3 linked regions of the Homo sapiens genome follow. The protein of the gene in region 1 binds, or shares a complex with, the protein of each later gene. Each region holds a gene or a part of one and is shown in the gene's direction. Other genes may lie near its edges.

Evidence for each region. The genes of interacting proteins can lie anywhere in the genome.
Region 2: the proteins of IKBKG (region 1) and IKBKB are in contact, whole or in part, in a crystal structure (PDB 3BRV), measured with the Homo sapiens proteins. Residues at the interface, in NP_001093327.1 of Homo sapiens: Arg62, Ile65, Arg66, Asn69, Leu72, Arg73, Arg75, Cys76, Leu79, Phe82, Gln83, Gln86, Lys90, Leu93, Met94, Phe97, Ala100, Arg101, Val104; in NP_001547.1 of Homo sapiens: Ser705, Leu708, Glu711, Ala712, Leu715, Cys716, Leu718, Leu719, Ala722, Ile723, Asp725, Thr726, Glu729, Gln730, Gln732, Phe734, Leu737, Asp738, Trp739, Trp741.
Region 3: IKBKG (region 1) and CHUK share a complex: the UniProt entries of both Homo sapiens proteins name them as parts of the I-kappa-B-kinase (IKK) core complex.

The regions. Positions count from the first base shown.
Region 1 is NC_000023.11:154,557,370-154,564,883, forward strand, and holds part of IKBKG (NF-kappa-B essential modulator), read left to right. Parts: intron 1-1,162; coding exon 1,163-1,281; intron 1,282-3,037; coding exon 3,038-3,190; intron 3,191-4,318; coding exon 4,319-4,415; intron 4,416-5,440; coding exon 5,441-5,584; intron 5,585-6,189; coding exon 6,190-6,332; intron 6,333-6,589; coding exon 6,590-6,651; intron 6,652-6,949; coding exon 6,950-7,092; 3' UTR 7,093-7,514. UniProt on the Homo sapiens protein: Regulatory subunit of the IKK core complex which phosphorylates inhibitors of NF-kappa-B thus leading to the dissociation of the inhibitor/NF-kappa-B complex and ultimately the degradation of the inhibitor.
Region 2 is NC_000008.11:42,316,183-42,323,696, forward strand, and holds part of IKBKB (inhibitor of nuclear factor kappa-B kinase subunit beta), read left to right. Parts: intron 1-27; coding exon 28-157; intron 158-527; coding exon 528-722; intron 723-1,474; coding exon 1,475-1,589; intron 1,590-2,369; coding exon 2,370-2,493; intron 2,494-3,087; coding exon 3,088-3,239; intron 3,240-3,402; coding exon 3,403-3,464; intron 3,465-4,552; coding exon 4,553-4,662; intron 4,663-5,713; coding exon 5,714-5,763; intron 5,764-5,871; coding exon 5,872-5,971; intron 5,972-6,164; coding exon 6,165-6,312; intron 6,313-7,514.
Region 3 is NC_000010.11:100,226,202-100,234,274, reverse strand, and holds the start of CHUK (inhibitor of nuclear factor kappa-B kinase subunit alpha), read left to right. Parts: upstream 1-4,678; 5' UTR 4,679-4,742; coding exon 4,743-4,847; intron 4,848-8,073. Other genes in the region: CWF19L1 (CWF19-like protein 1), read left to right, coding at 904-1,048.

The DNA.
Region 1 (7,514 bases):
TGTCCTCCTCTTTTGACAAGAACACCGGAGATACACAAAGGTACACAAAAGCGGGCCTTTGTTCAAGCTGGCAAAAGAGATCTTCTTCAGAAACCCCTGCTTGCGGGGGAGAGAGCTGAGCTCCGTTCCCGCCCCAGCAGAGGCGGCCTGGCCTTGCGAAGGGAGAAGGAGGGAGTCGGGAGGGGGCGAGTGCAGGCTCAGGTGAAAGATGACGGGGCAGCCAGCGTCCTTGCCGCGAGGCCAGCCGTGTGTGGGAGCTGCCGGTGCTTACCAAGGTTGGGATGCTTCCGTCCCGTGGAGACTGGGAGACTGGGCCCCGCGCCTCCTGAGGTTTCCGTTTCCAAGGAGTGGCTGCGGGGCCCTCGGGAAAGCCCCTGGGTTGTGGGTGCTACACAGATGTCTCAAAGGGACAGGGTAAGCCCTTTGTAGTAAATGCTGTCAGAAAGGGAGGTCAGGTGTTGGCCGGAACAGACAGTACATGCTCTGGGCAGCCCTGAGCGTTTCCAGACGGGAACTCACTCAAAAGGGGGCTGGGGCGTCCCAGGGGCGCGGCCTTAGGCTCCCAGAGGCCCCGCGAGGTGGTGGCCGGGTGTCTTCGGGCAGGGGTTTGAGTGCAGTGTGCCTGCCGAGAGGTTCTGCAGTTCCCAGTGTTTAACAAAATTCAGTGTCCACTCTTGATCTGCACAAACTCTCCCATCCTGGCGGCCCCGGGTGTGGACTGGGGCCTGTGTTTACTTTGCCCTATTCGTGTCTGGCCTCCTTTTGTCCCAAGTCTCAGAGAGACGGAGAGAGATCCCCTGCTGGGGCTGTAGCTGCAAGGCCACCGGGTTCAGCCCTCGAGGCCTGCTTGCCGGGGCAGTGACTAAGCCGTTGACAACCTCAAGGCAGCTTTGTGCTCCTTCGTCTCTTTGGGGATCTCTTTTTGCCCCATCTGTGTGTCACCCTGTGGCAGAGGGTTAAGGTGGGCAGCTGGGGAGGGTTGGGTGGCCCTTGGGCTCATGAGGCCCTAGGGCACCCAGGTTTGGGGGTGCCGAGGGCAGGAAAAAAGGCCTCATGGCGCGCAGGCCTCAGCCGCTTGCGGGTTGCCCCGGGCTTGCGGATGGCAGGAGTGGGCCGCTGGGGAGAAAGCAGTGCTGACAGGAAGTGGCTTTTTATCCTGCAGCAGATGGCTGAGGACAAGGCCTCTGTGAAAGCCCAGGTGACGTCCTTGCTCGGGGAGCTGCAGGAGAGCCAGAGTCGCTTGGAGGCTGCCACTAAGGAATGCCAGGCTCTGGAGGGTCGGTGAGTCGGGGGAGCCGGCTCCGGAGACCCCTTCCAGGGTTTCCAAAAGCAATGAGGTGGGTTTAGGGGCCTCCAGGGTGCTCCTTGATGAGGATAGACCGGGGCAGGCTGCGTAAAGACGTCGGGGCAGACGTCGGGAGAGGTCTGGGCCAGGCATCCGGGACCTGGGTCCCAGCCGGCTCTCCGCACTCTGTGACCCTTTGATGGAGTTTGGATTATTTCCTTAGGAGGCATTCTGGGGGCCCCGAGCCCACACCCACAGTGTCTAGTTCTCTGGAAGGACTTCTGGGACCGGCGCACAGTCGCCCTCGTGGCTGAGGTTGATGACAGGGAAAAAGGCACAGGGCAGGAGCCGCCAGGGCAGGAGCCGTGGGGGGAGTTGGAGAAGCCCTGTCCCAGCCTCCCGCTGCCCTGCGAGCGGCACAGTGAGAAGCGCCTCCCACACGGGCCGTGTTCCTGCCCAGGGATGCCCGCTAGAGACTCAGCGCCCTGGGTGTTTACTGGGGGCAGGTCCTGTCAGCGCCCTCTGCCAGGCAGGTACCTAAATCCCCGACTCCCAGCAGCAGAGCGGGTGCTCACGTCAACCACGTTCTTCCTACAAATGGCCTAGGTGCAGGGACCGACCTGACCACTAGAGAAAGTGTCACTGTGGCAAGGGAACTTCACCAGCCAAGGGCCAACCTTGCCAGCCGGTGGCCTCAGGCCTGCTGGTTACTCTCTTTTGCAAAGGGGTCTTGGTTCTTGTGAGTGGGACCATTGGGTCAAAGGGCAGGGAGGTTTCTGTGGTTCTCATTCGGTCCTGCTTCTGCCCTCCAGACAGATGGATCAGCTGCCAGGGGGGCCCCAGCCATCCCAGCACAGTAGGCGGTCAAGGTGCACTTGGGGCAGCCAGCAGGGCAGAGGGGAGGGGAGCTTGACCCAGGCTCTGATGGGCAGAGGGAACCCGTGCAGGGTGTGGGGGCAGTATGCAGGCAGGCGCGGAGGGGAGAGCCAAGCAGCCAGGCCTGCCAGGCAGAGTTGGGGTGACTGGAGAAGGGCCGTGTCTGCCTGTGGCCAGAGGCCACCCAGGACCTGGACAGATGCACCCACCATTGTCCCTGCAGTGAGGCTGTGGAAGGGCTTGGTGTGGTGGGATGAGGCCAGACCCTGGAAACTGGAGGTTAAGGGAGCTGTAGGGGGGCAGGTGTGGGAACTGAGCATCCGAGCAGGTCGTCTGGGACTCCAGCAGAGCTCTGGGCAGCAGCAGGGATGGGGCCGAGGCCCGGTCTGCATTGAGCTCAGTGCTTGCACGCCCAGGTGGGCAGTCTCTCATTTTTGGAACAGCAGTCTCTCCTGACCCCCTCCACTGAGACTGCTTTTGCTGGGGCCCCCAGCAGTCCCCCAGTGGAACTCCACGGGCAGTTCCGAGGGCTCCTCTCACCTGGCCCCAGCACTGCGGGATGCAGGCGACCCCATCCTTTTCTCGGACCACCCCCTTCCCCTGGCTTCCAGGTCTCCTTGCCATCTGTACTTGGTCACCTGCTGGGCCCCTGCATTGAAGCAAACACGTCTTAAGCAAAGCTCCTCACCTGCTGCTCCCACCTGGCCCCCTGCAGTTGTCCTCGTGTCTGTTGACGGTGCCTCCACCCTGCCGCCTGGCATCAGCTCGCAGTCACAGGGTGTTCAGAGCCGACCCCCACCCCCCGCCCACGCCCTGCGCATAGCCCCTGCCGTCCCCCCGTTCGTCCTCCCTGAGTCTGCTCTTTCCCCGTGCCAGGGCCCGGGCGGCCAGCGAGCAGGCGCGGCAGCTGGAGAGTGAGCGCGAGGCGCTGCAGCAGCAGCACAGCGTGCAGGTGGACCAGCTGCGCATGCAGGGCCAGAGCGTGGAGGCCGCGCTCCGCATGGAGCGCCAGGCCGCCTCGGAGGAGAAGTGAGTCAGCGGGGGCGGGGCCGCACCGCAGGGTCTGTGGTTCTACACTTGATCTTAGCCGAAAGGCTGAGAAGTGTCGGGTCCATGGTTCTTTCTGCCTTCTGAGGACTCCTTCAGATTCTGCCTGTGGCTGTGGGCCCATTCTGTCCCTTAGCCTTGCTAACGGTAGAGGCGACCATGATGACACCCGGTTTGTCTTTGATACAGTCATGCCATCTGCTCTCCAGACCACGTTTCACTGCGTGTCCACACGTGGCCTTTTTTGTAGTTTTTTTTTCCTAGCCACTAGGTCATCAGGGGACTTGTCCTTTAAAACCCCTTCTAGGCCAGGTGCTGTGGCTCACGCCTGTAATCCCAACACTTTGGGAGGCCAAAGTGGGTAGATGGCTTAAGCCCGGGAGTTCCAAGACCAGCCTGGGCAACAGAAAGACAACAAAAATACCCCCAAACCCCCCCGTCTACCAGCATCCAATCTGGGACCTCAGGTTCCTGTCCTTGGCGTGCCTTTTCAGTCTCCTTTAATCTAGAACAGTTCCCCTGCCTTTCTGAGCTGTTTGTGAAGTTCACAGTTTTGAACAGTGCAGGGTAGTTCCATTGTATTATTACTATTATTTTCAAGACAGGGTCTTGCTCTACCGTCCAGGCTGGAGTGCAGTGGCATAATCTCGGCTTACTGTACCTTCCGCCTCTTGGTCTCAAGCGATCCTCCCAGGTAGCTGGGACTATAGGCGCAGGCCAGCACACCTGGCTAATTTTTGCATTTTTGGTAGAGGTGGCGTTTTCCTATGTTGCCCGGGCTGGTCTTGAACTCCTGAGCTCAAGCGATCCTCCTGCCTTGGCTTCTCAAAGTGTTGGGATTATGGGCGTGAGCCACCGCGTCTGGCCGCGATTTTATTATAAACATTAAAAATACTAGCTTTTAGGAAAACGATATTAACTGCCTGGTGACCAGCCCACCAAAGCCTGCTTTAGAGTTGACGGCCTCAGGAGTCCTCACACAGCCTTGGAAGACCCCATTCCAGGCCTGTGATGCGAGGGAGGGAAGGAAGGGGGTAGAGTTGGAAGCAGGCAGCACCGTGGCTGGACTGGCATGAGGTGGTTTCTCCAGCAAAAGCTCCCTTTCCTCAGGAGGAAGCTGGCCCAGTTGCAGGTGGCCTATCACCAGCTCTTCCAAGAATACGACAACCACATCAAGAGCAGCGTGGTGGGCAGTGAGCGGAAGCGAGTGAGTGCGACCACTGGGGCTCTAGGGCTGGCCTTGCCTCTTCCTCTCCCCGTGGCCCTGAACCTTGAGAATGGGTAGACCTGCCTTAGACTTGCCTTAGACCTGTGTCAGGCTGCAGCTGCGACAGCTCAGGGAAGCTGTGGGGAGATGGCAACCCCAGGATGTTGCTCTCAGGAGTGTCAGCAGGCCATCTTAATGGGGGGCTGGGCCAGAGCCTTGGGGTGCTCCCTCTGTGGGGCTGGGGACGTCTTGTCTCCATGGACATTCCCTCTTGCCAGCCATCGCCATCTGGCACCTGGCTCAGCTTCCCCCAAGCCAAGGTAAGCCCGACAGCATTTCCACCCCAGTGTTGGCTGGGAGCCTTTTCCTAGTTTGTCCTCATCAGACCTAAGCTGGGGTGCAGTTTGCTAGTGATCACATTTTAGCAGGACACCGTCAATCGTAAGTGTACCCAGAGGAGATTTATAAGGACAAAGCCTGAAGCCAGGTCACATGGGGAAGAGTTAGCTACAAAACTGGCCACTTAATCTCTGGAGGGGGGCGTTGGTGGGGTGTGTCTGTGTGTGTCTCAGGGGGCTGGAGATGCCTGCGTGGGAGGAGTGCACCTCTGACCAGGTGGCAGAGTGGAAGGACTGAGGGCTCTCAGCTGAGCTGTGCACATGGCGGGCACAGGACCGGCTGGCTGTGAGTGGGTGTGGCCTGTGGCCTGTGAAGGGTGGGAGGAGGGCTGTGGAGCTGGGGATTCTGGGAAGGGAATGTCGGCCCAGCTGGGAGGTTGTACCAGATGACCTCAGCGGCCTCTTCAGTCCTGAAAAAAACCTCAGCATCTCCTCTGTCGTTTTGGGCCGTGACAGGACGCAGCCATCTCCCTGTGCACGCTGAGATCCTGCAATGGGCCCTCAAATCAGGGGCTGGCATCACCCAGCCTGGTCAGCCAGGGCCACTCTTTCATCCTTCTCAGTTCTTCTCAGCCAGCCTCGCCCTGGGCTGACGAGGCTCCGTCAGCTCCCCTTGCCCGTCCTTAGGGAATGCAGCTGGAAGATCTCAAACAGCAGCTCCAGCAGGCCGAGGAGGCCCTGGTGGCCAAACAGGAGGTGATCGATAAGCTGAAGGAGGAGGCCGAGCAGCACAAGATTGTGATGGAGACCGTTCCGGTGCTGAAGGCCCAGGTGAGGGCCCTCCTCTCTGACCCACCCTGGCACTGGGACCTGGAGAGTCTCTTTGGCGTCTTTTTTTTTTTTTTTGCTTTTGCTTTTTGAGATTGAGTTTTGCTCTTGTTGCCCAGGCTGGAGTGCCACTAGTGGCACGATCTTGGCTCACTGCAACCTCTGCCTCCCGGGTTCAAACAATTCTCTTGCCTCAGCCTCCTGAGTAGCTGGGATTACAGGCGCCTGCCGCCATGCCCGTCTAATTTTTGTATTTTTAGTAGAGACAGGGTTTCACCATGTTGGCCCAGCTGGTCTCGAACTTCTGGCCTCAGGTGATCTGCCCACCGCAGTCTCTCAAAGTTCTGGGATTACAGGCGTGAGCCACCGCACCCGGCCTCTTTGGCATCATTTTGTAGTGGCCTTTCGTAAGCTTCTGAGCCACTTGTGCTGCTCCTTAGACCTCTCGGTGAGCTTGGCATTACTCGCCGACGTATCTGTTTCCTCTGCGCCGCTGGGGGCTCTGGGAGGACAGCAGTGGGTTCTGCTTTGTTCCTGTGGTGCCTGGCGCAGTGCCTGGTGGGTGGCTGGCTTGTGGCGGGCACATCCCTTTCTGTTGGATTTGCCAGGCGGATATCTACAAGGCGGACTTCCAGGCTGAGAGGCAGGCCCGGGAGAAGCTGGCCGAGAAGAAGGAGCTCCTGCAGGAGCAGCTGGAGCAGCTGCAGAGGGAGTACAGCAAACTGAAGGCCAGCTGTCAGGAGTCGGCCAGGTGGGCCTCTGAGAGCGTGCCCGTGTGAGCAGTGGGTGCGACACTGGGGGGTCGCCAGTGGTGACCCCGCAGTGGGTGCGACACTGGGGGGTTGCCAGTGGTGACCACAGGAGACGGATGGCTCCTGGTGTTCTGGGTTAGGGCTCACTGTGGTCCCTCTCCTCTCACCTGAGCTTCCAAGAGCTGCTTTGACACTAGTCCAGCCAAGGAGCTTTACAGAAATGCGTGGCTTGACTGGACGGTTTCTGTTTCCAAAGGATCGAGGACATGAGGAAGCGGCATGTCGAGGTCTCCCAGGCCCCCTTGCCCCCCGCCCCTGGTGAGTGAGCGAGAACTGGGCCTGCGGGAGGAGGTGGGTGGGGAGGGCAGGTGCTGCGCCGCGGGAGGTCACAGTTCGACCTTCCTGTTGCTCTCTGGAGACTTGACGGCGGGAGCTCGTGTAGGCCACCCCATCGGTAGCCCACCCCCTTCCCCGAGGCTAAGGGAGGCATGCCGTGGTAGCGGCGGCTCCTGGTCTTACATGAGTGGCCTGTGAGACCAGGCCTGCCATTGACAGTCCTGCCAAGTCTCCGTCCCCCTCCATCCTCCCCTTCCCTCTGACTCTTCTCTTTTCCCAGCCTACCTCTCCTCTCCCCTGGCCCTGCCCAGCCAGAGGAGGAGCCCCCCCGAGGAGCCACCTGACTTCTGCTGTCCCAAGTGCCAGTATCAGGCCCCTGATATGGACACCCTGCAGATACATGTCATGGAGTGCATTGAGTAGGGCCGGCCAGTGCAAGGCCACTGCCTGCCGAGGACGTGCCCGGGACCGTGCAGTCTGCGCTTTCCTCTCCCGCCTGCCTAGCCCAGGATGAAGGGCTGGGTGGCCACAACTGGGATGCCACCTGGAGCCCCACCCAGGAGCTGGCCGCGGCACCTTACGCTTCAGCTGTTGATCCGCTGGTCCCCTCTTTTGGGGTAGATGCGGCCCCGATCAGGCCTGACTCGCTGCTCTTTTTGTTCCCTTCTGTCTGCTCGAACCACTTGCCTCGGGCTAATCCCTCCCTCTTCCTCCACCCGGCACTGGGGAAGTCAAGAATGGGGCCTGGGGCTCTCAGGGAGAACTGCTTCCCCTGGCAGAGCTGGGTGGCCGCTCTTCCTCCCACCGGACACCGACCCGCCCGCCGCTGTGCCCTGGGAGTGCTG
Region 2 (7,514 bases), on another chromosome or scaffold:
CCTCACACACTATGCTCCTCTCCACAGTGTCCTGGCTGAGCGACTGGAGAAGTGGCTGCAACTGATGCTGATGTGGCACCCCCGACAGAGGGGCACGGATCCCACGTATGGGCCCAATGGCTGCTTCAAGGCCCTGGATGACATCTTAAACTTAAAGGTGAGTGTGGAGCCAAGTTAGCCCTGAGGCAAAAGCTGGGGTCCCCAGTGGAACATGCAGTTCTTAGGACAGAGCAGGGGATGGGGCCAGCTGACCTAGTGAGGAAATTTAGGCTCCTGCATCAGTCTTTCTGCATAAGTAAAGAAAGGACAGTTGTGCTAATTGACATTGGCTATGAGGTCATAGCCACAGACAGGATTATGAAAGATGCAAATATGCGAAACATGGCACATGACCTCCCTCCCTCAAGCTAGGCCCTTGCTTTGTGTGGTTGGGAAATGTTGGGAGTAGCAGAGAGAGGACCTAGGCAAATAGATGGGCATTTCCTTGAAGAAATCGGTTTTCCAGTAACATCTGGGTTGTGTTGCAGCTGGTTCATATCTTGAACATGGTCACGGGCACCATCCACACCTACCCTGTGACAGAGGATGAGAGTCTGCAGAGCTTGAAGGCCAGAATCCAACAGGACACGGGCATCCCAGAGGAGGACCAGGAGCTGCTGCAGGAAGCGGGCCTGGCGTTGATCCCCGATAAGCCTGCCACTCAGTGTATTTCAGACGGCAAGGTGAGCCCTGGCTTCGTACACACCATCCTGTTTACCTTGGCTGTGCCTCCTGGGAAACTCAACACACTTTCAGATTTCAATTCTGCTTTGTCATGTAGTCTGTTAATCACACAGTGCGGATACCTGGCTGGTTTTTAAGTTGGAGTATGGTGTCCTCTGTGTGGCCTGATAGGAAACACAAATCTCCTTGCTGGACTTGTTACTTCCAAACCCTCCAAGACCGGTCTCTTGCCTTTATTGCAAAAAATGATGCTATAACACTCGAATCTCTCAAGTTGCCTGCTTGGCCCTCTTCCAAGTGTACTAAAAAAAAAAAAAAAAAGGATGCTGCACTTTCTTGAGTCAACTGAAAGTATTTATGATGGCCTCTGTGTACAGAACTGGGTTAGGCACCTGTGTTAACTATAGCTGTGTAAGACATGACCTCTGCTCAAAAAGACCTTCTCAGCTGACTTGTGGAGCTAAAGTTATCATATGAGAAATAATCATTGCATAGGGAAGTATATAGTGAATTTCTGAACTTCCCAGGGAAGACAGAGAGTAAAATAGAATGTAATACGTTTGTAAATAAAGAGTGTGTTCAGACAGTAAGTGTGGCTGGAAACGTTAAACACTTCATGGATGCTTCCTACTTGCTGGCTGAAGATGATGCTCTTGCTGAACAGTGGGGAAAGCTGTGGAACTTCTTCATTATCAGTTAGAAAAGAGAGGGTTGGATCCACAAGATTCATTTTGTCCTTGTCCCTTTGCAGTTAAATGAGGGCCACACATTGGACATGGATCTTGTTTTTCTCTTTGACAACAGTAAAATCACCTATGAGACTCAGATCTCCCCACGGCCCCAACCTGAAAGTGTCAGCTGTATCCGTAAGAATTTGTTATGTTTTGTTTTTCTAAATAATCCGTTATAATATGTGGGACAAGGCAGGGAAGGGAGACTGGACTAAGGAAGGGGGAGCCACGTAAAGGAAATTAATATCGCCAGTCCTCAGGGCAGCCTTCCTTATTTAGGACATGCAAGGAGTAGCCAGGCAAGAGAGAGTACAGGAAACCATTAGTTAATTTCAACCTCCTAGGACGGGCGTGGTGGCTCACACCTGTAATCCCAGCACTTTGGGAGGCTGAGGCAGGAGGATCACTTGAGCCCAGGAGTTCAAGACCAGCCTGGGTAATATAGTAAGCTCGCAAGTCTACTAAAAATTTAGAAATTAGCCAGATGTGGTGGTGCATGCCTGTAGTCCAGCTATTCAGGAGGCTGAGGCAGAAGGATCACTTGAGCCTGAGAGTTCAAGGCTGCAGTGAGTCATGATCACCCCCACTGCATGCCAGCCTGGGTGACAAGAGCGAGACCTTGTCTCAAAAAAAAAAAAAAAATTCTGTTGAAAATATATGGCCCTATATACATATGTGTCCAATGGTTCGTAAAGTGTTCCTTCAAATCAACAGCTACTTATTGACCACTGGTACATGCTGTTGGTACAAATACATGTATGTGACAGTAACCAGGCATAACACCCTCCAAAGTTACATGATCCTATAGTAGGTACAAAACGTGAAAGTGCCAGTAGTGTCGAAGGCAGGATATGGTTAATTGTAGGAGAGTTATTGTGGTTATTCTTTGACAATTGCTTGTGTCTCTGTCTCCAGTTCAAGAGCCCAAGAGGAATCTCGCCTTCTTCCAGCTGAGGAAGGTGTGGGGCCAGGTCTGGCACAGCATCCAGACCCTGAAGGAAGATTGCAACCGGCTGCAGCAGGGACAGCGAGCCGCCATGTAGCGTGCCAGGCTTTTTTTTTAAACTTAATTTATTTAAAATTCCTTGGTGGCTTTGGCCACAGGGAGGTGGTTGAGGCAGGGACCCAGAAGCAACCGTTATGAGCAACAAAAGGAAGACACTGGTTTGGATGGACGGGAAGCGGTTGGGTGGGCTGGACTGACGGAGGCCCCTTTAGACCTGGCGAGGTGAGTGTGGTTGGCACAGGGTGAGGAGTGTGGAACTGAAGCTGGGCTGGCCAAGCTGTGGCTGGTTTGGGAACCCAGAGGAGCTCACTACCATGTGGATTAGCAAAACTCCCCTGACCGTGCTGCTGGGGACTTACGGACTCTTTCCTCATTGTGACTCGTTTGCCAACATTATTGGCCTTTTGTGTCTTCCTTTGCCTGATGTCAAGTTTAGTGCAGAACCTCAGGCATTGCTGAGGGCTAGGAAATTGTCCTTGGGTTATAAGTGGCTGCTATAATAATAGTGATGATGATAATAATTATAGCAGGGACCTCCCTTGACATTTGAGGGGGTTTTGTTATTGTACAGGAAATGGAATTTGGATCCCAGAGATGCTCCAAGACTGTTCCTTGTGGTCCCTGCAGGATGAATCTCCTCCGAAACAACAGCTGCCTCTCCAAAATGAAGAATTCCATGGCTTCCATGTCTCAGCAGCTCAAGGCCAAGTTGGATTTCTTCAAAACCAGCATCCAGATTGACCTGGAGAAGTACAGCGAGCAAACCGAGTTTGGGATCAGTGAGTGTGCACTTTGCAATGAGTTTAAAGACACCATTTTTTTTTCTTTTTCTCTTTCTAAGGTTTCTTTTGTCCTATTATAATTGAGTTGCTTATTTCTGTTTCAGTTTTGTGGTGTTTTTATTTTGTTTTGTTTTGTTTTTCCTTCTCAATTTTTTTTCAGCATCAGATAAACTGCTGCTGGCCTGGAGGGAAATGGAGCAGGCTGTGGAGCTCTGTGGGCGGGTAGGAGACTCATTTTGGGTTTCGGAACTTACCAAGGGGGTGAGATTTTGTGCTCCCACTTTTCACTTTCTCATCAAACACTGGGTCGATCTCTGTCAAAAATCAGGTGTTCCTCACCATGCTTTGAGCTTAACTGGACCAGCTGAAAAGAGGCCAAGAGAGTAGCCAGTGAAGGGAGCCCCTCTGTGGCCAGATGCAAGAGCTGCATGAATGGACAGAGATGGTCCAGGTTTAAATAAGAAGCAAGGGTTAGGTTCCCTTGGGGAAAAGCCAAGACCATTTCCTGTTAGGAAGGGCATTGGATGGATGATCAACACTCCCTCTTGTCGAAGGTTTTTGACTAATTTTGTTGGGATGCTAAATCCATAGGAAATAAAAGGTCTAGGCAGAAAGTCTCAGGGCAGCGTAAATCAGATGTCACCAAAAAAAGTTAATTATGAAGGCAAAGGAAATACATGTGACTTAATGAACCTCACACAAACTGAAGGTTGAAGTCAGGCTCCGGGGCTTTTTCCTGGACTTATCCTCTGTTTTCCCCTGTGTACTTGGGCAAGGATCTTCACCTGTGTCTTAGTATCGATTTTTATGAATCAGTACTGATGGAGTATATGTGTGTTTAATGGTGAATATTAACCATAGAAGGGCTGAGTGCTCCTCCCCATCTTGGGACTCATAATCTGTGAAATAAAACAGTCTGGGCCTCCCTGCCCGGGTAGCATCAGGATAGACAGATGAAGAGAAGAGAAAGTAATGTGTCTTGGGCATCTTCTGTATGCCAGGCACCATGCCAGAGGCTTTAAGTACTTCATCTTACTTGACTCCTCAGATGGCCCTGTTAGAAGCCTATTTTATGCAAAAGGAAACTGTAGCTGGGGGTAAGTAACTTGCCAAGGGGTCACACAGCTAGAAAGCGGTGGACCCTAGATGCAGGCGCAGCCATTCAGACCCCACAGTCCACATTCCTTTGAGCCAGTCCATTGAGGGTCCTCAGGGAATGTGGCGGGTCCCCTGGTCTCGCTCCCCCGCAGATCTTGCATCTCAGCATGCGCCTACCACATCAGTTGACATTAGCACAGCTTTTCCATTAGGAGAACGAAGTGAAACTCCTGGTAGAACGGATGATGGCTCTGCAGACCGACATTGTGGACTTACAGAGGAGCCCCATGGGCCGGAAGCAGGGGGGAACGCTGGACGACCTGTGAGTACTGGCTGGGGGGCCCCTCTGTGCCCAGCACACACAGACAGCCCTGGAGCTTCGGTGTGTGTGTCAAGGGCACCCTCAGTGGCTGTGCGGGACCATTCTCTAGAGCATGCTTCCCTGTGGGGTCACTTCCAGCAAATCATCACTGAGCTTCAGTTTCCAAATCTGTTCAGTGACAAGAAAAACAGTCTTAAGTCACGAAGTTGTAAGGATGAATTCAGATAATGCATTTGAGACGCAGGCCATAATCTGTAAAGGCTGTAAAATGCAAGCAGCCTCTACCCCTGTAGCAGACTCCCCTGATTTGTTCCACCCACCCTGACTCAGGCATAGCTCAGAGCAGAAAGTAAAACAGAGAAGGAAGAACCTGATGAGGCTTAGGAGTTTGGACCTGGAAACTATTCGTTTGAGTCTTTGTCAGGTATTTGGCATTGGCTCCATGAGGGGCGGAGGGGTCTAGGCAGATCACTCCTACCTGAAGGAGATCACATGTGCTCCTGGCGTACAGATGGAGGGAACCAGGCAGGCCGCTTGAGGGCTGTGTCACCGTGAGCTCAGCAGTGTTCCCTGATTCTCTCACTAGGATTCTTAGGACAGGAGCTCCAAATGTCAGAACTTTGATTCTGTATTTTCTCTAATTAACCCTTTATTCTCCTCTAGTTCTTTTATTTGTATTTGTATTATTTTTTTAAGAGACAGGGTCTTGCCCTGTTGCCAATGCTGGAGTGCAGTGGCACAATCATAGCTCACTGCAGCCTCGACCTCCCAGGCTTATGCAGTCCTCCCATCTCAGCCTCCCAAGTAACCGGGACTACAGGCGCATGCCACCATGCTCAGCTAATTTAAAAAAAAAATGTTTTTGGCTGGGCACAGTGGATCACATCTGTAATCCCAGCACCTTGGGATGCCAAGGCAAGAAGATTGCTTGTGAGCCCAGAAGTTCGAGACCAGCCTGGGCAACATGGTGAAACTCTACCTCTACCAAAAAAATGTAAAAATTAGCCATATTTGACCTCAAGTCTAGACAGAACTTCTTTGTATATTTTAGAGAGGAGCAAGCAAGGGAGCTGTACAGGAGACTAAGGGAAAAACCTCGAGGTAAGTGGGGTTCTGTGTCTGCCTTGGGCTTCTCCTTATCTCATTTATGGGGCATCACTACTCTCTGCTGGCTTCCTTGAGGAACTATGCTACCCTCCCTCTCTCCAGACCAGCGAACTGAGGGTGACAGTCAGGAAATGGTACGGCTGCTGCTTCAGGCAATTCAGAGCTTCGAGAAGAAAGTGCGAGTGATCTATACGCAGCTCAGGTATGAGCCCCGACCTTCCTGCTCTGGAGGAAGGACTGGGAGATGCAGGTATGAGGTCACCTTCCTCCCTCCTCTCTGATTCGCTGGACCTCATGAAGAGAGTTTCTGCAGCTGCTGACTGGATGCACAGCTGCCACAGGTTCTGCTTTCTCCAGCCCAAATGCCATTAGTTTGCCATGTTTATTCTTTGCAGTAAAACTGTGGTTTGCAAGCAGAAGGCGCTGGAACTGTTGCCCAAGGTGGAAGAGGTGGTGAGCTTAATGAATGAGGATGAGAAGACTGTTGTCCGGCTGCAGGAGAAGCGGCAGAAGGAGCTCTGGAATCTCCTGAAGATTGCTTGTGTGAGTGAGTGCTGTGGTCCCGGGCCCTTGGCCTAGCAGCCTCCTGTGCCTTTCCACCTCTGTGCACTGCCGCCATCCCACACGGGACACCACAGAGCCACCAGCAGCCCACTCAGCTGCTGCTCGGGCTTCACGTCGCTGTTCTTTGACTTGGTGTAAGCGGGGAGGTCAGAGGAAGGGCCTGTGCTAATTGTTTTCATTCATCTGTGTATTACTTTCGTGTGGCTACTGTAAAGATTAGCACAAACTGAGGGGCTAAAACAACAGAAATTTGGGCTAGGCATGGTGACTCATGCCTGTAACGCCAGCAATTTGGGGAGGCTGAGGTGGGAGGATTGCTTGAGCCCAGGAGTTCAAGACTGCAGTGAGCTGTGATCATGCCACTGCACTCCAACCTGGGCAGCAGAGCTGTCTCTACTAAAAACAAAAACAAACGTGTTATCTGAGCTCTAGAGCCCAGGAGTTGAAAGTCCCGTGTCAGCAGGGCTGAGCTCCCTCTGAGGGCTCTTGGGGAGGGACTGTCCTTGCTTCTTCCAGCTCCTGGTGGTTCCAGGCGTTCTTTGGTGTGTGACTCCAGTCTCTGTCTCTGTCTTCATGGGACCCCTGTGTCCCTTATCTGGGTGACTCTTACAAGAACACTTGTCATTGGATTTGAGTCCCACCCAAGTAGTCCAGGGTGATGTCATCTCAGGTTCTCTAAAGACGCTTTCTCCAAGTACGGTCACACTCACAGGCTCCAGGAGTTGGGATGTGGGCATATCCTTCTTAGGGCCACCAATTCAGCCCACCGTCATGCACGGCAGTGCAACTTGGTTGACCATCGTCTGCGTCTGCACTGCCCTCAGTGCAGTAAGCCACGCTTTCTGTGCACACCGTCTTAACGTAGCTGTGAGTCCATGGGATGCCACATGGTGGGGAAATGGGAAACAAAACAGCCAAGAACTGAGACGGGCAGGCCTGGCCGTGTTGTGGGAGCCAGAGCTGTTGGGACTGCAAGCCCCATTGTGAAAGGCTGCAGAGAAGGTGACATGGATGAAAGAGTGATTTAGGTGTCAGTTTCCCTTAAGAGCAAAGGGAAGGAGAGAGGGAGATGGTTGCTCATGGTGGAAGCAGGAGATGGTGCATTAGGAGATTCTCATTGTCAAAGGCAGAGGGGACAATCCACACACAGTGCAGAGAACAGAGGGGCTGGGGTCGCATGC
Region 3 (8,073 bases), on another chromosome or scaffold:
TAGTTCTATTTTCCTTTTATATTTGAAATAGGCTCAAAGTTTGCCCAGGGAGCTTAGGTTCTTTGACTTATAGAGAATTCATGATTTGTTTCTAACTCTTCTATTTACTGTAACTTCAAAGTGGAAAATGAACCATATAAATGTGTAATAGAATTATTTCTAATATATCAAAATAAGTAAAAATAAAAATATAAAGCAATGGCGATTAGAAGGCAGCTTGTGTGTGAGTGTGTCTGTATGTAGTTATTCTTTAGTCCTAAGAGCCAAGATAGTTGTTTTGTTGACATTGGGCTTGTGCTGCTGTTACGTGGGCCTGAGTCCCCTAGAAGGAGAGGCAGAGGAATTTTAAATCAGAGTGGGTATGACTAGGCTCCTGACTCTGCAAACTCATGTCTAGTTGAGGTGACAAAACTACAGTTTAAGGCAGGTTGTAATCACAGCTAATATGGCACTTTGACTGTGTTATCTCTGTACCTCACAAAAACCCTGTATGGTGGGTGTTCTTATTTGCATTTCATAGGTGAGGAAATCAAGACTCAGAGATGAAATCATCTGTCTAGATCATAGATAGCAAGTGGCAAAGCTGGAAATGGGATCCAGTCTCTGATCTTTCTCACACCAGGGCCTGCCCTTTTTCTATGTGGTGTTGCTTCTCTAAGTACCAATAATATAGTTCCAAGTTTTTTAAGAGAGGGAGAAGCAAGTGGGGTTTGAAGGATCAGGAAATATATAGTACCTGAGCTGGTCATTTAAAACGGGTATGATTTTGATCAATAGTATGGCAGAGATGGCACTCAGGGCAGGAGAGCAAAGTCAGAGAAATTTGCATACCTCCTTTGGGTGATGTTGAGGAGAGCTCAGGCTGATAGTTTCCATTTTGACTTCTTTGTGCTATTTCTGCAGGGAGGTCCTGGCCAGTGAAGCCATCCTTAATGTTCCTGATAAGTCTGACTGGAGGCAGTGTCAGATCAGCAAGGAAGACGAGGAGACCCTGGCTCGCCGCTTCCGGAAAGACTTTGAGCCCTATGACTTTACTCTGGATGACTAAAACAAAGGGAAGAACTTTTTATGAACTCCACAGGAAGTAGTAAAGCTTTTTTTTTTTTTTAATTAAAAGAATTTTTTTTGAGACAAAGTCTCGCTCTGTCACCCAAGCAGGATTGCAGTGGCATAACTGTGGCTCACTGTAGCCTCAACCTCCTGGGCTCTAGAGTTCCTCCCACCTCAGCCTCATGAGTAGCTGGGACCACAGGCGCATGCTACCATGCCTGGCAAACTTTTTTGATTTTTTATAGAGACAGGAGGGTCTCCCTGTGTTGCCCAGGCTGGTCTGTAATGCCTAGGCTCAAGGGATCCTCTGCCTTGGCTTCTTAACCTGCTGGGATTACAAGCATGAGACACCATTCCTGGCCTAGAAGCCTATTTTTAAAGAAACTACAATCTCCCATGGGGACTGTTTCCCTGCCTCTTTTGTGCAGTCCCATGGAACTTGCCTACAGCAAGAGGCCTAAGATTGAATCTTTTTGGGGAAAAGTCATTCTAGGATGAAAATCCTATGTTAAGGCCGGGCGCAGTGGCTCACGCCTGTAATCCCAGTACTTTGGGAAGCCGAGGCAGGTGGATCACCTGAGGTGAGGAGTTTGAGACCAGCCTGGCCAACATGGTGAAACCCCGTCTTTACTAAAGCTACAAAAATTAGCTGGGCGTGGTGCCAGGCACTTGTAATCCCAGCTACTCAGGAGGCTGAGGCAGGAGAATTGCTTGAGCCTGGGAGGTGGAGGTTGCAGTGAGCCAAGATCGCTCCATTGCACTCCAGCCTGGGTGACAGTGAAACTCCATCTCAAAAATAAAAGAATAAAAGTATGTCTGTCATCCAGCTCCTATGTCTGTTATCCAGCTCCAAGTACAGCTTGTGTATATCAACATTTTCAAAAACCTTTAAACTACCAAATGAAATCCAGATGTTTTTCCATGGTTGAGAAGTGTCTTGTGTTCATGTTGCCTGTGACCGTTGAAATGAAGTAGTATGTGTAATAGCAGGGGCTAGAGCTTTAGGCCCAGCTGTTACTCCAAAATCACACAGGGCAGTTTCTCCCTGAACAACCCAAAGTGGAAAAGGGATCCAAGGCTTTTGCTATTTTTCTCTTAAGCATTCATCTTATTCATAGATAAGAGCCCATTTAGTCCTTCGGATATTTAACTCCTATGTGCCAGGCATTTTTCTAAGCTCCAGGACCATAGTCATGTCCCAATATGGTCCCTGTTGTCCCAGAGATTACAGTTTAATGGGGAATAGAAGGGACAGATTTAAGAAAAAAAAGATAATTCTCCTTTGGATATTGTTTTAGGTGCTTGATATATCTAATATGTGTCTGTTGTGCTGCTGGGCAGTTCTAAACTCATCAGTACCTGGGTTGGTTACAGGGCTTTGGGGATCATCAGGGTATAGGCCATAGGTGAAATTAAGATAGGGTAAATACAGTCCTGAGCTGAAGATGATTACCTGAGAAATATCAGTATTTAAGGAGTGCTTGAAAATAGTGATCTAACATTTACATAGAGAAGGAGCAAAGAGAATGCTACATATTAGGCGCAAAAAGAAAAATATTTTTACCTTTATATTGGGCACTTATGGTCCAGACACTGTTTCATTTAATCTTCACAAAATCTCTGTGAGGTAGGTATTACCTCTATTTTACTCATGAAAAAAAAACTGAGACTCGGAAAATTGAAGATTGTGGAGCCTGGGGTCAACAGGCTTAGGCTTTTTAAAAAACAGGCCAGGTGGCTCATGCCTGTGATTGCAGCACTTTGGGAGGCTGAGGCAGGCAGATGACCTGAGATCAGGAGTTTGAGACCAGCCTAGCCAACACGGTGAAACCCCGTCTCTACTAAAAATGCAAAAAATTAGCTGGGCGTGGTTGCATGCGCCTGTAATGCCAGCTACTCGGGAGGCTGAGGCAGTAGAATTGCTTGAACCCTGGAGGTGGAGGTTGCAGTGAGCTGAGATCACACCATTGCACTCCAGCCTGGGTGACAAGAGTGAAACTCCATCTCAAACAATAACAACAACAACAACAAAAAACAACTCAAATTACTCATGGCCCTGGGAATGGGGGCATTTAAAAAGTTAACCAAGGGAACCAACCTGGTTTCCACAAAGATGGCCACTTCTGGGTCAGCCCAATCATCAGTATCCCTGGGTCCTCAGCATCCCTTCCTACCTCTTTTGACTGGGAATTACGAGATTACAGCCCCACCTACGGAAATTGAGCACATTAGCACTGGCCATGCTGTACATACAGCAAATGAGAGGGCTTCATACTGTTACAACAATCTGTACCACAATTCTCTGTGCGGTCTGCCCAGCTCTAAATGACATGTCCTCAGAGGCATCATCATCTCCAAGTCCATGGAAACCATGCACTTACAGAAACCAGAACCTCCCATACCACATGTTACTAATGACCTACAACATCGACTTCGTCTGTATCATGCAGTGCTCAACATTCTGGTTGCAGCATCACATTTATCAATAATTTGATTCCATGCTGATTCCTTTACTTGGAGTATTGAGATCCCCCAGGTACAGTGAAGGTATGACCCTCTTAAATGGAAGACCAGGAGTTGTTTCCCCTATGCTATGGCAATCCGCCACCCGGAAGCACTTGCTGCACCAACAGCATTCCCAAAGCTTGCCTCTGCAGCCCTGTAGCACCCATTAGAAACACTTCTCACAATGAACTACTGTGCTGGCAAACCCATAACTGGACTGCCGGACAGCAAGCTCTGTGAGGCATCTAGGAAAAAAGCTCGCGAAATCCCGAGAAACACTCTTCACTCCGGAATAGCGTCACATTCTTGAGTCATTTGGGATGACAGGGGATATCCTGGAGCAGGTGTATTGGGAAGTCAGTGAACAAGAAGGCTAATTCATTAGTGGGCCTGCTAGCGTAGTATTTTAACGATTTCGCAGCCTTTAAATCATTGGTGGTCTTTAGCGTGCCGGATCAGCTGGTGGTGGAGTTGGAGGATAGATGGCAGGGATCTGAAGAAAGGTGAAGTGTAGATAGGAGTAGAGACAATATGAAGTTTAGAAAAGACTAATTGCTGGACGCGGTGGCTCATGTCTATAATCCCAGCACTCTGGGATGCCAAGGTGGGAGGACTACTTGAGACCAGGAGTTCGGGACCAGCCTGGGCAACGTAGCAAGACCATGTCTCTACAAAAAATAAAAAATTAGCCAAGCGAGGTGGTGCGCGCCTGCAATCCCAGCTACTCGGGAGGTGAGAAGATCGCTTAATTCCGGGAGGTCGAGGCTGCAGTGAGCCGTGATCGTGCCATTGCACTCCAGCCTGGGCAACGGAGCGAGACCCCATCTTAATTAAAAAGAAAAAAATACAGGAGAGACTGGGCTGCTTTGAAAAGTGGATTTGACGGGAATGTGGGGTTTGGAGAGATCTTATGTTTTCCAAGACTAGAAAAACATTGTGGTTCCGTTCAGCCCTCCCGGAAAATACGTAGGGGACTTAAAGAGCGGACCGAGTACCTGTTTGTTTCCCCATCCCTTAGCCGGCAGGGCTCTGGCAGCGCCCTGGGAGAACTTAGGGAAGGGCCTTCTCGCAGCGGTTACCGGAAGTGACGCATTCATTCTCGCGAGAACAAAGACGCGCGAGCATCGGCGGCCCGGAACCGGCCTTGGAACAACTGTGGAACCTGAGGCCGCTTGCCCTCCCGCCCCATGGAGCGGCCCCCGGGGCTGCGGCCGGGCGCGGGCGGGCCCTGGGAGATGCGGGAGCGGCTGGGCACCGGCGGCTTCGGGAACGTCTGTCTGTACCAGCATCGGGTGAGGCGGGGCGTGAGAGGGAGCGGCGGTGGGTTGGAGCGGCGGTGGGTTTGAGCGTCTGTGGAACACAGGGCTGACAGTGTGGGATAGATGGTTGGTGGGACCTTGGGCAGTATTTGGGGGCCAGTGGGCTTGTGTGTGTGTATTAGAGAGAAAGATACTATGCCTGTGTGTCCAAAGTTGTATTTGAGGTACTGGGCATAGATAGAGCTGTTGCGGGGAACTTGGGTATGACTGTCAGGCTGTGACCAGGTGTTTAGTGAGTGTGACAGTGCGTGTGTGTCTCTGTGAATGTGGAGTGTCAGGGTGTGTGAGGCAGATGCACGTCACAGTGTGTATGTAGGAGCACGAATGTGTGAGAAGAGGGCTGAAGGGGACTGCCTTTGGGAATGTGTGCGTCCGTGTGTGTGTGTGTGTGTGTGTGTGTGTGTGTGCGCGCGCGCGCGCGCGCTTGGAGGCCATATGATATCAGTGGGGACTGGAGTAGACAAGGAAGGCTTCATGATGGGTCCAGAGTTAAGCCTTTGGAAGCATGGATGGGCTTTGGAATTGGGGATGTATTCCAGGTCGGGACAGTATGAGGGTGAGTTGGTGCAGAGCATGGCTTCAAACGAAAGGCTATATTAGTAGATGGAGATGGGGGGCGCTCTAGTAGGTGGAGGACAGTTAACATCAGACTCAAGAATTTTACTTTGATTTAATAGAGAATGTTTAACCATTGTAGTAGCAGTTAAAAAATCATATTTGGGTCTTGTTTGTTTGTTTTTGTTTTTGAGACGGAGTCTCACTCTGTCGCCCAGGCTGGAATGCAGGGCGCGATCTCGGCTCACTGCAGCCTCCTCCTCCCGAGTTCAAGCGATTCTCCTGCCACAGCCTCCTGAGTAGCTGGGATTACAGGCGCCCGCCACCGTGCCTGGCTAATTTTTTTGTATTTTTAGTAGAGACGGGGTTTCACCATGTTGGCCAGGCTGGTCTCGAACTCCTGACCTCAGGCGATCCACCTGTCTCAGGCTCCCAAAGTGCAGAGATTATAGGCGTGAGCCACGGCACCAGGCCTGGGACATGTATTTTTTGATATACCGATAAAAGCTGTGAACCCTTTCCCCAGAAAAATGCACAGATGCACATTCACACAACCATGCATTGCCATTTGAGAGGTTCGTGCCTTCCTAAAGGACATTTTAGGTAAATAGACCCTGGACTAATAATTCCTGTAATATAGGCTTTGTTTTGTTGCCTGTAAAGTAAGTATAGTATAATAATTACATGCATCATGGATTTGAGAGTTAAATAAAATAGTAATGTGTGTAAAGCTAAATACGGTACCTGACCCATGAAAGCCCTCAACTGTTAGCACCTGCTGCTACTTTGTTGTTGTTGCTGCTATGATCATAATGCTCCTCATTAATTGGCCTTAAGGAAATGTCAAGATAAAAAGTGTTGTTCTAGGAAAATGGTTTTGTAAAGGATAAATTTGAGTGGAACAACATATGGGACAAGATGAACAGGTAAGATCTTACTAAAATGCCTGGGCTTGGCTTGTGAATAGAGAAGTTAATTCAAGAGGAAAAGTAATAATTTGTTATCTAAAGGAACATGGGTGTAGTGAGAAAGCTCGTAATTTGGGGTGGGAGAAAGGGGAGATAGGAGTCTACCTTGGGAAAATAGGCATATTTAGGGTAATTAGAATGACAACTGAAACTGTTAGAACTGAGGAAGTTTTGTGAACCAGGTTTCTAGATAGGGCATAGGAGAAAATCTTGGAGAAAGAGAATGGAAGGTGAAGGACTAAGGCATTAAGTCCTGTGATAGCAGGATAAGTAGTAAATTTAATAATTCTCACCATCAGAGGGAACATAACACACTAAAAAAAAAAAAAAGTGGGAGCCAAGTGCTTCCAGTGGCATGTTGCCTGTGTTACCTAAGCCTGCCTATCCGCCTGGTCATAAGGAAAAAGGATGCATGCTGGCAGCTTTTGTGACTTCTTTTCTTGGTCCCTGGGTGGGGATGGATGAATTAATCACTTTTTGTTTTATTATGGTAAAGTATACATAACACAACATTTATCACTTTATTTTTAAGTGTACAGTTAGGTGGCATTAAGTACATTGACGTTGTTGTACAGCCATAACCCTATCTCCAGAATATTCCGACTTTTTTGTTGTTGTTGTACATCTATAAACTTCCCATAGAATATTCTTTGTGAAAAGGTAGAATTTCACAGAGTTGATGAAATATAAATTAAGGAGTTGAAGGATCTTACAAAGTGGGATTTTTGAAATAGATAACTTATTGCTCCATTAACATGAGCATTCAGGGCTCAGTGTTGTTCATGGTTGTGCCTGATTCTCATTTCCATGGTGGTAAAGGCCTGCATGGGACATAGATATAACTGGTCACCTGCTCATAACAAAAGGAAGATTGAAGGGAGTGAGAACTGTGGGTAGGCTAGCATGCAGTCTATCCTAGTTTCCTTCTTCTCTATGCACCAGGTATCATCTTATCTCTAGCTTCTTTTTTCCTCTCACCCTCCAATTCACACTACCCTATCCAAGCTATGTCTTGCTTCCCCACCTATAATATATTTTTTCTGTCCTGGCCCCTGGGCTCTTCTCTCTGTATTCATACACAGCCTTTATTACAACTCTGGTTTGTGTCAGAGATTACATATGTTGGAAATTCTTTTGAACTCTCCTTGTGATATCAGAAACATAGTGTAGCCTGTTTAGCCCTGACTGCTATTTCTGAGCTGCATTATTAATGTTGCCAGAATATGATGGGGTCTGGCTATTTCCTGTAATATGCATCAGAATGGGTTTAATTTCAGTCAGAATTGGCTAAATTACTAGTCACAGGCAAGAGATGTTAGGTTCATTATGTAGCTATGGAAGCAGAAGTACACTCATTGGTAGGATTTTTTTTCTTCATGTCATTTGAAATGCATACATTAGGATTGGAGTTTTTTGCTTTAGGCTTGGTTATATTAAAACTTTCTCTTGCTGTTTGGAGTCCAGGAAGCCCTGAATTACCTTCTTCATTTTAGTTATGCTAGAAGCTGGGGCACATATTAGTTGTCTTGATTAAGCTCTGAAAGGGGTTTGCTGAGGAGACAGGATCTTTTTTTTTCTAACATTATATATGAGAGAGAGTTCTGAAAAGACCTGTTATAAAATCAGTTTCAGGCACTTTTCCCTTGTATGCTGTTGTGTGTTTGAAGGTCAGTTTT